Linked DNA regions of Homo sapiens: region 1 is linked to region 2. A link means that fine-mapping ties the variant in region 2 to the expression of a gene that starts in the linked region. Tissue or cell type: whole blood. Region 2 holds a variant in brackets; the other region holds the start of a gene. All regions are shown on one strand. Distances are from middle to middle.

What was found. PIP is the estimated chance that this variant, and not a neighbour inherited with it, causes the effect.
Region 1: UBE2Q2 starts here. The variant in region 2 is fine-mapped to the expression of UBE2Q2 in whole blood (INTERVAL, PIP above 0.99).

What each region holds. Positions count from the first base shown.
Region 1 is chr15:75,840,183-75,848,287 of GRCh38, reverse strand. It overlaps UBE2Q2 (ubiquitin conjugating enzyme E2 Q2), which reads right to left and starts at 4,841. Exons shown (of 13, transcript NM_173469.4): 1 at 4,442-4,841. The coding sequence starts at 4,621. RefSeq lists silencers at 4,031-4,430, 4,681-4,760, 4,901-5,040, 5,081-5,260 and an enhancer at 3,862-4,759.
Region 2 is chr15:76,086,181-76,094,285 of GRCh38, reverse strand. All of the region lies in intron 1 of TMEM266 (transmembrane protein 266), which reads right to left. Among named protein-coding and RNA genes, the nearest start is that of TMEM266, 30 kb to the right of the region's middle. The variant C/T (reference allele first, on the strand shown) is at 4,612.

The DNA.
Region 1 (8,105 bases), 250 kb after region 2:
AGATGAAGTTAACAGCATTGCTTTATTTCCCACAAAAACCTGTTATAAAGCATTTTCAAAATAAAGTGTTATTCAGCCACAAATGACACCATCGCTTTTATATTTGTAGAACATAATATCATTGCCAAAGAGCTTTCCTCTATATGCTCTCTTGCAGTGCAAAAAAATATTATCTATAGTACACAGAAACACAGTAAAAGAAGTGACTTACTTAAGCTCCTAACTACTAAATAAAAGCTAAACTTCTCACTTCCTCCTAGATTCACAGCTCCAACATTTTTAAAATTTAGTATCTTGCTGTTGGGGGTAGGCACTTTTTGGCAATAATGAATAGAAATTTAATTAACCAATCAAAAACAAAGTCCCACTAAAAGCAGCCTAGCAAACAGCCACTTATACGCAGAAAGGGTAATCATTTATGCTCTACAAGTAATATAAAAAATGAAGTTTCATTTGTTTACTAGCTAATTTACTTCCTGGGGGAGATTTTTCATTCTAAAACAGTGATTTCCTACCAAGAATGCCCAGATGCCAAAAAGTCCATAAAAGGAGTAATGGAGTTGCCAAGTTATGTTAAATACTTCAAAACGACTAAAGCCATATACTAGCTCCCAATAAGGCTGCTTAAAACAAGCTGCTTTGCATTTCGGTGTGATTGTAACAACTAATTAGACGGCAATCAGGTTAGTTTACTGAAGATGGAAAAACTATACTTAAGTTTGTATAACAGGCAATCTTTCATATCATGGCTTCACAGAAAAGAATAAAAAGGACTCGAGGTTGAAAAAGAGCACTCTTTTCCCTTCATTATTTAAGATCAGGACAAATTTATAAAACAGGAAAAGAATTAGCTCAATTCCCTTGGCCTACAGAGTAAAACATCTACTCTGTTTTGGTCTTTTTCACTTCTTACACTCTCATATGAAGTCAATTTACAGACTTCCATCAAGCCCTTAGAGACCTTTTTGTACTATCCATGACAAGTTATTGATGTTATCTCTGCACTTTTGACAAATTCTTAGCAGTTAACTTACAAGGCAGTTAAGATTTTTGTTCAAATACAATACAGCTAGAATAGCGCTATATACTCAAATATTTATGAAGCATTTATTGAGTGGAAGATAAAAAGCACAAAGCATAATTATAAAATATTCTCCCCTGCCACCATAAAAAGAAAAATTTAAAGGCTTACAGAATACAGCATAAGAAAACATGACCAAAGCAAAAATAGTAAGGACTAAAGAAGGGAGGAAGGGGAAATAACAGCATGAACTAAATATGACCCAGAAGAGCCTTGACGGATGGTCAGGCATATAAAGACAAATGGGGTAAGGTTAAGGGGTGGAGGTCAGGGGCACATTCTACAGGGAGAAATACAGCTGATACAGAAACCTGAAAGGAAAAGCCAGCAGAGCACCTGTACAGGACTCTTCAGGAACTAGCATGCACGTGTGTAAAAAACAACTTAGTTTCTCAAACATTAGAGAAACTGCATAAGGATGTTTCTTGGTAAGTATAAAGAAAACAAGTCCTAGCATGTAGAATTCAAATATTTGAACTGTCTAAAGAGGAAAAGTTAAAGAATAAGTCAAACTCATTACCTTTTCCAGAGTTACAACTTTAGAGAATAACAAATCATCGATCAAACCAAATCATTTGAAATCCAACCCCATTTTTCCCTTGATCTTTCCCTTCTAAGCAAATGGTATCGACATGAACAAGCCATGTCATTTTATCAAAACAGTCATCCATGTTTAAAAGAGTCTTTACGGCCAGGAACGGTGGCTCACTCCTGTAATCCCAGCACTTTGGGAGCTTGAGGTGGAGTTCAAGACCAGCCTGGCCAACATGGTGAAACCCCGTCTCTACTAAAAACACAAAAATTAGCCGGGTGTGGCGGCGGAAACCTGTAATCCCAGCTACTCGGGAGGCGGTGGCAGCAGAATTGCTTGAACCTGGGAGGCGGAGGTTGCAGTGGGCCCAGGTCACACCACTGCACTCCAGCTGGGACGACACAGCGAGACTCCGTCTCAAAAAATAATAATAAAAAATAAAAGAGTCTTTTACCTTCAAAAGATACAAGCAGAAATATTTACAGATGAAGTGATCTGTCTGGAATCTGCTTCAAAATAATCTAAAGTGGAGTACAGATGAAGATTAGCCAAAAGTTTATCATTGTTGAGGCTGGCTACATTACACTGTTCAACTTTTGTACATTTGATGATTTTCCATAATAAAAAGTTAGCAGACATTTGTACTGAGCAGCTGCCATGATAATTATCTCCTGATAGTCTGTCATATTTCACTAGCAAGTCAATTTTAATAGTTTCTACCTAGCGGTGGGTGCCATTACACTAGTCCTCACTAAATCCTCCTTGTACTGAAAGTGTCTCATTCACTTCTTGCTCCATTTCTGTTGCCACTGCCTAATCCAGGTCATCACTCCTTATTTTTATCTGCAGCAGACTCTTACCAGCCTTCAATATGGTTCTCGATGGGGCACCAGTGGCACTTTAGGTGGGATAATTCTTTGCTGTGGCAGACTGCCTGAACGTTGCAAAACATTTGGTATCCCTGTACTCCTAGCACTAAATGCCGGCACAGCAATAAGACCACCCCACCCCCACTGGGATAACCACATTTCCTAATGCCACCCACTGTAGAGAACCATTTCTAATCCTGGATGAAAGATACATTCTCCCAACTTACCTGAGTAAACTTAGTAGCTCCCCACAGCCTACAAATTCAGTCTCCTATCATTCAAACCAGCCCTACCTTTTCGTGGCCATGCCCCAACTTCTACCAGAGTAATCACCCTCGAAGCCATTCAGGCCCGTCTCCTTAAAACACCTGCTTCATGACAACTACTACACTTTCTGTTTTCCACTCTTGGAAAATCCTCCCCTTCTCCAGCCTGTATCGTGGGCTTCTCAAGTCTTAGCATAAATTTTCTACTTCTAAGGAAACCACACTTTCTCAAATCTCCGTGTCTTCTTTGGGTGGAGTTTCCTCAGTCTAAAATGCCCTTCCGCCAGCCTTCCAAAATTGTAGTCACCTGTGGAAGCTCATCTCTAACTGTCTCAGCCTCTCATCAAAGCCTTCCCTGAAGCGCACCTCCCCCAAGTCAAAATTAGTTGCTTTGGCTTTCCTGATGATACCACAGGAGCTGTCACCTTATTGAACTCTTCCCCCAAGAAGACTGAGTTCTGAGAGCGAGGACGACTTCACTCAATTCTGCAACACTAGTGCCCAGAACACTCAGACGTATTCATTCAATAAATGAATTATCTCCTCAGTACAGCACTTGTCTTTTTTTTTTTGAAATTAACACACCTTCTGCCCAGATAGTCTGGTAACCATTTTAAGGTCAATTATAACATCAAGGTTTTTGCAAACGCCAGCCACCCTGCAGGCACTTGAGTACCCACTGACTCAACCAAAGGGAGTTAAAAACAAGACTTGGTTTTAGCCATGTTTGAAAAGGAGCCCGAAGCCACCACCTTGACGCCTATTATAACCAAGAGAATATTCTGCAGTTTGGACCAATATCCTACATCAATTTCACGACGAATAGCTTCACGATACACTTTTATGGAGAAACTTAATACTTCAATTCCTTTACCAAGCCTTGGGTTTCTAATGAGATTTCCGCTTAATGAGTGAGTTTTTAAAAGTGTCTTTTCGGCTTTGTGACATACGTGATCTTTCCGGGGAGCAGCCCTGGCGCGTATCTCCTTTCACCTATCCATTTTCGAGGCTTACACACAAGGGAGGGGCCACACGAATACACACTCAACACCACCTGCCGCAACGACGGTACTATGCTCCTTTCCAGAACACAGCAGCGCGCAGCCAGGCCCGGGGGAGAGGGGTCGCTCAAACAGCACCAGAGTCTGCATTCCAACTTTTCCTCCGTCAACGAGTCCATTCTCATTGTCAGTTTCTCCTTAAACGCAAACTTAAAAACAATTGGCTGAACAAGCGGGAAGAAGGAAAATCCGACTGAAAAATGAGGCGTTAAAACTTAAGGGCCGTTCCCCTTGCCGGCCTGGGCTCAAACAACAGCCGGAGCTGCGCCGCCCCGCCCCGCCCCGCCCCGGTCCCGGGAGCAGGCCGGCTGAGGGCGGCCATGGACCCCACAAGGGCTTGGGCCGCCGCGGACTCCCCCCTCGGGGCTAGGAGACGGGGACCGAGATGGGCCAGAAGCCCCCAAGCCAGCCCCTGGCGAGAAGCCGGAAAGACGCGCCCTCCGCCTCCTCCCACCCAAGCCTCGCGCAGTCCCAGCCCGGCCTGGGATGGGCAAGTCGCGGGGGAAAGGGGCGGGCCTGCCCCGCCCGGGGAGCCGGAGCCTCTCCGGGGCAGGCTCCCCTTTGTCCCGGGACTCGAAGCGCCCCCTCTCCGTCCTCGCCCTGCCCCGCGGGGCCGCGGCCGGGCGCCTCACCGTGATGTTGCAGTGGAGCGTGAGTGGCGGCGGCAGCGAGTGCGGGCTGCCCTGCTGCGGCACCAGGAACTGGCAGTGCAGCTCGTCCAGCTTCCAACTGACGATGCGGAATCGCTCGTGGTTCTTGTCGAAGATGGACGCCAGGAACTTCAGCTCGGCCTTGAGCCCTGACACGGACATCTTCCCCTCATCTCCGGCGGGAGGGGCGCGGAAGGGGAGCCGGGCGCGGAAGGGGAGCCGGGCCCGGAGCCGCCGTCACGGCCGCGACCGCCCCGCGGGGCCGGCCTGGGCCGCGCTCTCGCGGCTCCGCCTCGTCGAGCGCTGCTGGAAAATGGCGAGGGGCGCGGAAGCCTCGGCGTGTGGCGGCCTGGGTGGCGCTTCCTTTGTAACCGACTCCAGCGGCAGGAGGCGGCGGCCCCGCGGCTTAAAAGGGCAACAGCGACGCCGCCCCCGCTACCGCCTGGGAAAGGGCTGCCCCCACCCCGCCCCCGTCCCCCTCACCCTGGCGCGCCCTGCGCGCTCCGGTTTCAGCGCGTGCACGAGGCCAGAGCGCGCGCGCCCGGCCGCCCCCTCCTCGCCTTGACCCAGCTCCCTTGTTCCCGACCCATCTGCTCCGTTCTTCGCACCCGCGGACTGGAGGCTCGGGGCCAGCTGGCGCCCGGGCCCCAGAAGTCGGGGAGGAGCCGGAGACCCCCGCGCGCCCCCGCCCCCGGCCTGGAGCCGGACACGTGCGTGGCGGATCGCGCCGGCCACGTCGGCGCCGCTGCAGACTAGCGCCAGCCCCTGGGGGCGGCTCCTCAGCTTGGCGCTCGGCGCGGCACCCGCTAACCTCACTGGGGGGACCTCGTGGGAGACGCGGGTGCGGCTCACCCAGCGTTACCTCCGCTACTTTCACCCTAGTCCGAGCCACCGCTTCGCTAGCCTGGGTTCCTGTGAGGACCTTCTCACCAGCCTGGGTTCCTGTGAGGACCTTCTCACCGGACTCGCTGCTCCCGCCTTTGCTCTCAAACCATCCATTTACCCAAGACGATGGTTTAGCCCCTGGAGGCTGTTGCCTGGAGGTGTCCCATGATTTCATCCCTTCCCTTAGCTACCACCTGTGTTCACTCTGCCGTATATAGTCTCTCTCTCCCCCCTTTCCTTATTTTGCCTTGTTTCCCAAGCTTAAGATAACCCTCCCCACCCACACCCCCATGGAGCTAGGGCTGCCCACTATTTTCACTAAACTCATAGCTCAAATATCATCTCCGGCACCCCCCACCACAACCCATTTCAAATAGTCACCCTGTGTCACATCGTCCTGTGCTAAGTTTTTGTTGGGCACCTGTCACTATCTGATCTTTAACCCATTTATTCCTTGTCTCTGCCCCGTGTTAATGTGTTCAGAGCTGTATCCCCAGGACCTAGAACAAGACCTGTTATATAGTAGAAACCCGATATGATTGAATTGAATGCTCGCTCTTATCTGGAATCCCCACCACTAGCACAATTCCTGGCACATTGTAGGTGCTCAAAAAATGAATAAAGGTCTGGATAGCAGTCCAAAGGAATACATCCCAATTTGGCAGACAATAGTGTGTGCAATCGTAAGTGCAAGAGGCAGGACCAGCTGCATATGCGTCCAACCTATGTAGTTGCACAGTGCTCCCAGCTTAGAAGGGCTTCGAGCTTGGTTTAATATTCTGGTGTCGCCATTTTGAAATTCGTAATTTTTCAGAAAGGGGCTCCGCATTTTCCTTTTCCAGTCTTACCTAGAGTTACCCAACCCTGACACCTGTCTCTTTCTTCCTAATCTACAAGAGATCCCTGGGCTACTGGTCCCCTTAGATGACAAAATACAGAACAACACAGGGACACATTAAGTCTACTGAAAGTTTTTATTTCCATCTACTTCTGAGATTTTGTATCATGTTATAGTCCTTAGCCTTTAAGAAGACAAATAAACTTTTCCAATTTACCTCAGTAAGTTAGTAGCTCCCCACAGCCTACAAATTCAGTCTCTTATCATTCAAACCAGCCCTAACTTTTCCTGGCCATGCCCCAACTTCTACCATCTTCTACCCCAACTTCTATCTAGCCTTTAAGAAGACTAAGATTCTCACAGACCCCTTTGAGAATCTAATAAAAGCTATGATCCATCTTCCCAGGAAAATACTTCTGCATCTAAAATTTTGTACTTATGGGGATTCATGACCCCAGCACTAGAGCTACCACACTATACACTGGGACTGGGAGAAGAAGGGGTTCCAGGCCTGGGTTCTGAGCCAGAAACAACTAGGCTACTGTATTAGCATTATTGCTGGGTTAAGCACAGAAGTGGCTTGCCACTTTATTTTTCCTTCAGTCCCCAGTTTCTTGGGACCCTAACAGGCATGGCATTCCCAGATAAGGATTTGAGACAAAGAGCAACAAACTCTTGAGAAGTTGGTATGACTTCGAGAAACAAAATTCCCTAAACAAGCTATTTAATCTGTCTAAGCTTTATTTTGTTACCTCTAGATTGCTGTGAGAAAATAGAGCTTTTTAAATTGCAAGTGTTTTTACTAGTTGTATCCCAGAAATATATACAAATATTAATTTCACAGTCGCTTTTTGAGCATCCATCTGCTGCATGCCAAGCTGTAAGAGGGCTAGAAAGATACATAGATACAGTCCCTGATTTTAAGAAGCTTAACATTTAGCATCAAAAACAAAATATTGTTTCCTGATGCTTTTGGCTGCAAATAATAGAAAACTGTGATTTAATCTGCCTTGGACAATAAGGAAATAAATTACTTCACATAATAGGAAGTCCAAAGACAGAACAGTCTCCAGGATTGGTTGACCTGAGCTTTCATGTCATCAAAAGTCCAAATTCTTTCCATCTCTTTTGTTGGGTTGAGAGCAAGGTGGCTGTAGCTGTTCTTGCAGTTCACATCCAGACATGAAAATATCCAGAGGCAGAAAGGACATTTTCTTCTATGTTTCCTTCTAACACATGGGAAGCTTTCCAAGAATCTTCCCAGCAGACTTCCCTTAGTGTGTCCTTGGCCAGAAGTGTGTCACATGCCCACCCCTAACCAATCACAGAGAAGTAGATGGGATTACTCTGGATTTCCAACCTGCTGGGATGGAATGGTTGCTGGGGAGTCACCATAGTCTTACACAGACAAGTAAAGACAACATCAGATCATATGTGATATGAGGTTCAAACTACTGAACTACATTTCAGGGGAGGAAGAAACTAATTCCATGAATTATTTGCATGAAAGTAGGGCCATATTCAGAGGATATTCAAGAGCCCATTTGATTGTAGAGTACAGCAAGGGGCCAAGAGAAAGATAAAGTTGAGATATTACTTTTGATCAGATTTTGAGCCCTGAAATACCATGCCACAGACTATAGTATAATAGTTTCATTTGGTGAGAGGCATCACTTTTTTTTTTTTTTCGAGATGGAGTCTCGCTCTGTCACCAGGCTGGAGTGCAGTGGCACAATCTCAGCTCACTGTAGCCTCTGCCTCCTGGGTTCAAGTGATTCTCCTGCCTCAGCTTCCCGAGTAGCTGGGACTACAGGCATGCACCACCGTGTCCAGCTAATTTTTGTATTTTCACTAGAGACAGCGTTTCACTATGTTAGCCAGGATGGTCTCGATCTCCTGACCTCATGATCTGCCCGCTTTGGC
Region 2 (8,105 bases):
ATCAACTCAACATGGATCAAAGACTTAAACATAAGACCTAGGACTATAAAAATCCTAGAAGAAAACCTGGGCAATACCATTTAGGACATAGGCAATGGCAAAGGCTTCATGTCTAAAACACCAAACGCAATGGCAACAAAAGCCAAAATTGACAAATGGGATCAAATTAAACTAAAGAGCTTCTGCACAGCAAAAGAAACTATCATCAGAGTGAACAGGCAACCTACAGAATGGGAGAAAATTTTTGCAATCTATGCATCTGACAAAGGGCTAACATACAGAACCCAGAAAGAACTTAAACAAATTTACAAGAAAAAAACAAGCAACCCCATCAAAAAGTGGGCAAAGGATATGAACAGACCCTTTTCAAAAGAAGACATTTATGCAGCCAACACACATATGAAAAAATGCTCATCATCACTGGTCATCAGAGAAATGCAAATCAAAACCACAATAAGATACCATCTCCCACCAGTTAAAATGGCGATCATTAAAAAGCCAGGAAACAACAGATGCTGGAGAGGATGTGGAGAAACAGGAATGCTTTTTACACTGTTGGTGGGAGTGTAAATTAGTTCAACCATTGTGGAAGACAGTGTGGTGATTCCTCAAGGATCTAGAACTAGAAATACCATTTGACCCAGCAATCCCATTACTGGGTATATACCCAAAGGATTATAAATCATGCTACTATAAAGACACATGCACACGTATGTTTATTGCAGCACTATTCACAATAGCAAAGACTTGGAACCAACCCAAATGTCCATCAATAACATATACACCATGGAATACTATGCAGCCATAAAAAAGAATGAGTTCATGTCCTTTGCAGGGACATGGATGAAGCTGGAAACCATCATTCTCAGCAAACTATCACAAGAACAGAAAATCAAACACCGCATGTTCTCACTCATAAGTGGGAGTTGAACAATGAGAACACATGGACATAGGGAGGGGAACATCACACACCAGGGCCTGTTGGGGGGTGGGGGGCTAGAGGGAGGGATAACATTAGGAGAAATACTTAATGTAGGTGACAGGTTGATGGGTGCAGCAAATTAACATGGCACGTGTATACCTATGTAATTAAAACTGCACATTCTGCACATGTATCCCAGAACTTAAAGTATAATAATAAAAAAAAGAATAAATAAATAAATAAATAAAAATAGCACCTGGCTGGGCACGGTGGTTTACGCCTGTAATCCCAGCACTTTAGGAGGCCGAGGCGGGTGGATCACGAGGTCAGGAGTTCGAGACCAGCCTGACCAATATGGTGAAACCCCGTCTCTACTAAAAATACAAAAATTAGTTGGGTGTGGTGGTGCACGCCTGTAATCCCAGCTACTCAGGAGACTGAGGCAGGAGAATCACTTGAACCTGGGAGGCAGAGGTTGCAGTGAGTCGAGAGTGTGCCACTGCACTCCAGCCTGGGTGATAGAGCGAGACTCAGTCTCAAAAAAAAAAAAAAAAAAAAAGCACCTAACTCATAGCATTGTCATGAATTCAATAACCCATAAAAGGCTTAGAATACTGACTAGAACATAGTATAGATTCAGTGACTATTAGCTATATTATTTATTTATTTATTTAGAGATGGAGTCTTGCTCTGTTGCCCAGGCTGAAGTGCAGTGGCACAGTCTCAGCTCACTGTAATTTCCGCTTCCCGGGTTCAAGCAATTCTCCTGCCTCAGCCTCCAGAGTAGCTGGGATTACAGGCACCTACCACCAAGCCCGGCTAATTTTTGTATTTTTAGTAGATACGGGGTTTCGCCATGTTGGCCAGGCTGGTCTCAAACTCCTGACCTCAGCTGATCCGCCCGCCTCGGCCTCCCAAAGTGCTGTGATTACAGGCATGAGCCACCACGCCCAGCTATTGGATTATTAATATCCTTCTCAACATGCCAACTTTGATTAGCTGTACCAATATTTTGTTACATGTTGAGCTTTAAATAATTTGTGTTCTGTTCTGAAACTATACAAAGTTTAGCATGCTTTGGGAAATTGCTCTTAAACTGAATCTAAAACATGAAGACCAATAAGCAGCATTTATACTATAATTACAGTATATTCACTGCAGAATCAGGTAGTGTGGTTAAATCAGGACAGAAAGGGATATAGTACTATTTCATTATATCCATGTTGCTGGATAGAGAAAGTTCAAGTATACAGATTTCTTTTTTTCTTATACTCTATCATATCGCTCAACATGATACTATATTTTAGCCTGCTTCATATTTGATCCATGACTTTTGCCATAGGTTTTTCTTTTCTTTTCTTTTCTTTTTCTTTTGAGACAGGGTCTTGCTCTGTTGCCAGGCTGTAGTGCAGTGGCATAATCAGTGCTCACTGCAGTCTTGACCTCCTGGGTTCAAGCTATCCTCCTGCCTCAGCCACCATGGTAGTTGGGATCATAGGGATGTGCCACCACACCAGGATAATTTTTGTATTTTTTGTTTCAAAATAGGGTTTCACTATGTTGCCCAGGCTGGTCTTGAACTCCTGGGCTCAAGTGATCCTCCCGCCTCAGTTTCCCAAAGTGCTGGGATTACAGGTGTGAGCCACTGCGCCCAGCCTCCATAGGTTTTTCTTTATCCTTCTGAGGTTTCTCATTGCCTACTTCTTATAGAAAGTAGAAACAGGAAGCAGAAATAAATGTTTTCTCCATTTTATGAAAGATCATCAAGATCCCCAAATTTTCTGTTAATTGATAATTTTTGTTTTGTTTTGTTTGAGATGGGGTTTCACTCTGTCATCCAGGCTGGAGAGCAGTGGTGCAATTATGTCTCACTGCAGCCTCGAACTCCTGGGCTCCAGATATCCTCCCACCTCAGCCTCCCAAAGTGCTGGGATTACAAGCATGGGCCACCACTCCCGGCCCTTAAACTGTCAATTTAAGACACATTACTCTGTGGGTCTGCTGCATAACTGTCATCCTGGCCTGGCTCCATTTTTTTTCTGAGGTCCCATGTCTTCCTCTTTGTTGAGTTCCTTTTATCTTTGCTGGAGTACACCCTCAAGTAATTTTTTTCAGTAAAATTATATAGAAAAATCTTCTGAGTCTCTACATGTCTGAAAGCAATTTGGTCTGCATCATGCCTTCTCCATTTTTTTCCTCTCACTTCAACACTATGGCTTTCACTACACTCCAATAAAAATGATCTTGATATGTTAGCCAGGATCTCCTAATTACCAAACCCAGTGGACACTTTTTTCCCTTTTATTTTTAGTTGACATGTAATTGTACATATGTATAGGATACACAGTGATATTTTGATACATGTATACAATGTGTGATGATTAAACCAGGGTAATTAGCATATCCATCACCTAAACATATATCATTTCTTTGTGTTGTGAATATTAAAATACTGTCTTATAGCTTTTGGAAAATATACAATAGATTACTGTTAACCATATTTACCCCCCAGTACTATAGAATACTATAACTTATTCCATCCATCTAGCTGTAATTTTGTATCTGTTAGACAACCTCTCCCTGTCCTACCCTCTTCCTCACCCTTCCCAGCTTCTAATAGTCACAATTCTAATCTCTCTACTTCTATGAGCTCAGATTGTTTTAGCTCCCAAATCCCGTGGACACTTTTAACCCTACCCATTTATTGTAGAATTTGACACTGTTGATAACCCTCTGATTCTTAAAACTCTCAGTTCCCTTGGTTCTTGGGACACTGTGCATCCTTTGCCCTTTTCCTCTCTTTTTGTTTCCTTTGAGGTTCTGCATTCTTTTCCCAACTTTTTTCTTTTTCTCTTTTTTTTTTTTTTTTTTTGAGACAGAGTCTTTCTCTGTCACCCAGCCTGGAGTGCAGTGGTGTGATCTTGGCTCACGGCAACCTCCACCTCCCAAGTTCAAGTGATCCTCCTGCCTCAGCCTCTTGAGCAGCTGGGATTGCAGGTGTGCACCACCATGCCTGGCTAATTTTTGTATTTTTAGTAGAGCCAAGGTTTCGTCATGTTGGCCAGGCTGGTCTTGAACTCCTGGCCTCAAGCAATCCACCCACCTCAGCCTCCCAAAGTGCTGGGACTATAGGAGTGAGCCATCATGCCCGGCTCTCTTCCCAATCTTTCAATACTGATATTCTCTGATGTCCCATCTCTACCCACTGACGGTCTTTCTCATAAATGGGCTTTCTGAAATAGCTCATCTAGCACTATGATTTCAGCCACCAACTATCTGATGACATAAAGCACTAAATGTCACACACGAATTTCAAAATTAGTCTATCCAAATCTTAACTGATTATCTTACCTCCATCCAAAGGCTGTTTCCATGTTCGTGGTTTTTATTTTGTCTTGTGAAGTTACCATCCACCCAAATCTTCCCAGTTAAGAGCCATGGGAGTCATCCTTAATCTTTCCCTCTTTCACAGCCCCCAACCAGTTGCCAAATCCTCTCAAATCTCTCAGAAATGTCTCTGGAGTTTCATCATCTTCTCTAGTCTCACTGCTACCCTAATTCAGATCCTCATTATTTCTCACTTGGATTACTGAAACAACTCCCAACTTGCCCCTCTGCCCTCGCCTGTGCCCTTGCCTCTCCTGTCGGTACATCCTTCATTCAATTAGTGATCATCCCAAAACAAAAAA[C/T]GCACGACCATATCTTTGCCCTATTTAAGACCCTAGCTAGCTCCCTCCTGCTCACAGAATGTTTAAACTTATTAGTATCATACACAACCTTTTGCAATTTATCTCTCCCCATTTCCATTTCCAGCCTTCCCTCTCACCCTTCAACCCCACGAATTCTACAATTCAGCTATAAGAAACTTCTGGGCTGGGCGCGGTGGCTCAAGCCTGTAATCCCAGCACTTTGGGAGGCTGAGGCGGGCAGATCACAAGGTCAGGAGATCGAGACCATCCTGGCTAACACGGTGAAACCCCGTCTCTACTAAAAATACAAAAAAATTAGCCGGGCGTGGTGGCGGGCGCCTGTAGATCCAGCTACTTGAAAGGCTGAGGCAGGAGAATGGCATGAACCCGGAGCGGCAGTTGCAGTGAGCCGAGATTACGCCACTGCACTCCAGCCTGGGCAACAGAGCGAGACTCCATCTCTAAATAAATAAATAAATAAATGAAACTTCTGAAGATCACGGCCCCTGCTCACACCTGTAATACTTCCTCTTGAAGACTCTATGCTTTTCTTTTTCCTCTTTTTTTTTTTTTTTTTTTTTGAGACAGAGTCTTGCTCTGTTGCCCAGGCTGGAGTGCAGTGGCACGATTTCGGCTCACTGCAACCTCTGTCTCCTAGGTTCAAGCGATTCTCATGCCTCAGCTACCTGAATAGCTGGAGTAACAGGCATGTGCCACCATGCCTGGCTACTTTTTGTATTTTTAGTAGAGACGGGGTTTCACCATGTTGGCCAGGCTGCTCTTGAACTCCTGACTGCAAGTGATTCACCCACCTTGGCCTCCCAAAGTGCTGGGATTACAGGCGTGAACCACCATGCCCCGCCTTTTTTCCCTTTTTTGAGATGGAGTCTCACTCTGTAGCCCAGGCTGGAGTGCAGTGGCGTGATCTCAGCTCACTGCAAGCTCCGCCTCCCGGGTTCATGCCATTCTCCTGCCTCAGCCTCCCGAGTAGCTGGGACTACAGGCGCCTGCCACCACGCCTGGCTAATTTTTTGTATTTTTTAGTAGAGATGGGGTTTCACTGTGTTAGCCAGGATGGTCTCGATCTCCTAACCTCATGATCCACCCACCCTGGCCTCCCAAAGTGCTGGGATTACAGGTGTGAGCCACTGGGCCCAACCACTTTATTTTCTTTTTTTCTTTTCAATAGAGACAAGGTCTCCCTCTGTTGCCCAGGTTGGTCTCGAACTCCTGGGCTCAAGGGATCCTCCTGCCTTGGCCTCTAAAGTGCTAGGATTGTAGGTGTGAGCCACTATGCCTGGCTGATGCTTTTCTATTTACTGTTTCTTTCCTAACTTCTTCAGGCCCAGTTGCTCCCTGTACACTCCCAGAGTACCCTGCTAATAACTTTTCATCACACTGTCTTATTGCCATCTATTTTCATCTTCCTCTATGGCTATGCCATCAACCTCTTAAAAGCCAGGCTTATGTTTTACATATTGGTATCATCAGCACCTAGCATAGGTCTAACCACTAGAAGACACTTCAGTGGATGTTGAGGAAGAAAAGAGGACAGGACTTTGGGGAAAGATTATGTTCAGGAGGCAGGAAGAAGAGCCATGCTGAGGGTGCTTTGAGGGTAACAAGGACCCTGTAGTCACAAAAGCCTAGGAGAAAATTTCAAGAAGCTATTTGATTGTTGCAAAGAAGTTGTAAGAGATAAGGTTGTGAATAGATCACTGGATCTGGAGACTTGGAAGTCTCTGTGCACCTTCAGGAAAAGACATTCCAGTAGCCTGAGAAAGGAGCTGCTGAGGTTTGAGGGGGGCTTAGGAGAGATGGAGTGGTGAGGGAGCAGTTCTTTTTGACTTGACTTCTACAGCATTTGACATCAGCCCCTCACATTTGTTTAATCACTTTTCCCTTCTTTGGCTTCTATGATGTGACATTTTAAGGTCTCCCAGGATTCCTTCAAGGGCTGTGTGTTCCCTACTGCCCTTTAAATGTCAAGGTTTCCAGGGTTCTGTTTTTAGCTCTTGTCTCTGCTTAATCCATACACTCTCTCATTCATGATTATTTCAACGATGCCTACCTCCTGATGACTCCAGGTCCTTATCTCCAGCCCAGGACTCTCCCAGAGTCTCAGACCCATAGCTGTTAGTTCTGTCCACTGGACATGTAGATGCCCAGATGTGCAACTACCTCAATATTTTTGAAACTCATCTACTGCCACCAAAAATCTCCCCCTAAAACCTGTGTACCAATTTTCACCAAATATACCTATACTACCAAAGGGTATAACCCCAAATTTTCTTAACTCTTTCCTCTTCTCTAATCACTTAAGCCTTATCAATTCTATCATCTCAATCTAGAAATTCATCCCCTTTCTCCATCCCCACTGCCACTTCTTAAATTCTAGCCTTAAAATTTTTCAGCTGCATTATTACAGTCTCCCCATGTCTAGTCTCAATCCCCTCTTTCAGCCTTCTCCACACCACTTCCAAAGAAGTCTTTTTTCTCTAGTACTTTAAAAAAAAGATGCACAATTTATATACAATACACACATTTTAAGCATACAGTTTGATGAATTTGAAAAGAACCACCAACCCAATCAAGATGAGGCAGAAGAGGGACTGGAGGCAGGGAACCTAAGGCCAATTCATGCTGACTTCCTAGAACTAAATCAAAAGGAAAGCCCCAACTTTCCATGCCCAAGTAATAAAAGGACCAGAGGGTACTCCCTTTGCAACACCACCGCCCCCCCCCCGACCTGCTCCCTTTTTCTGCATGGCAGATGAAAAATTGGAAGTACCTCTGATTGGTCCCCTCCTGCAAACAATCAGGCTGGTTATGGGCCAAGTCTTCATTTGCACAGGAGTATAACTTTGTAACTTCACTTCAGCCTCTGATTGGTTGCTTTCTGCAACGAATCAGACGTTTGCATAGGGTATAACTTTGTAACTTCACTTCAGCCTCTGATTAGTCCCCTCCCACAACCAATCGGACTGATCATGGGCCACTACTTCATTTACATAGGGTTTACAGCAAGTAACCAATAGGAAACCTCTAGAGGGTATTTAAACCCTAGAAAATTCTGTAACCAGGCTCTTGAGCCCCTTGCTTGGGCTGCTCCCAGCCTGTGGAGAGTACTTTCATTTTTAACAAATCTCTGCTTTTGTTGCTTCATTCTTTCCTTGCTTTGTTTGTGCATTTTGTCCAATTCTTTGTTCAAGACACCAAGAACCTGAACATACTCCACTGGTAACAAAGATATAAAACATTTCCATCACCCCAGAAAGTTCTCTAGTGACTTTGCAGTTAAGCCTCTGACACCCAGAGGCAACTGCTGTCCTGATTTCTATCACCATTGCTTCATTGCCTGTTCTTAGACTGTTTAAAAATGGGATCCTATGGCATGGATTATTCTGTGCCTGGATTCTTCAGCTCAACATAATGTCTGAGACTCATCTAGGTTATTGCATCTATGAGTAGTTTGCTCCTTTATGCTGCTGAGT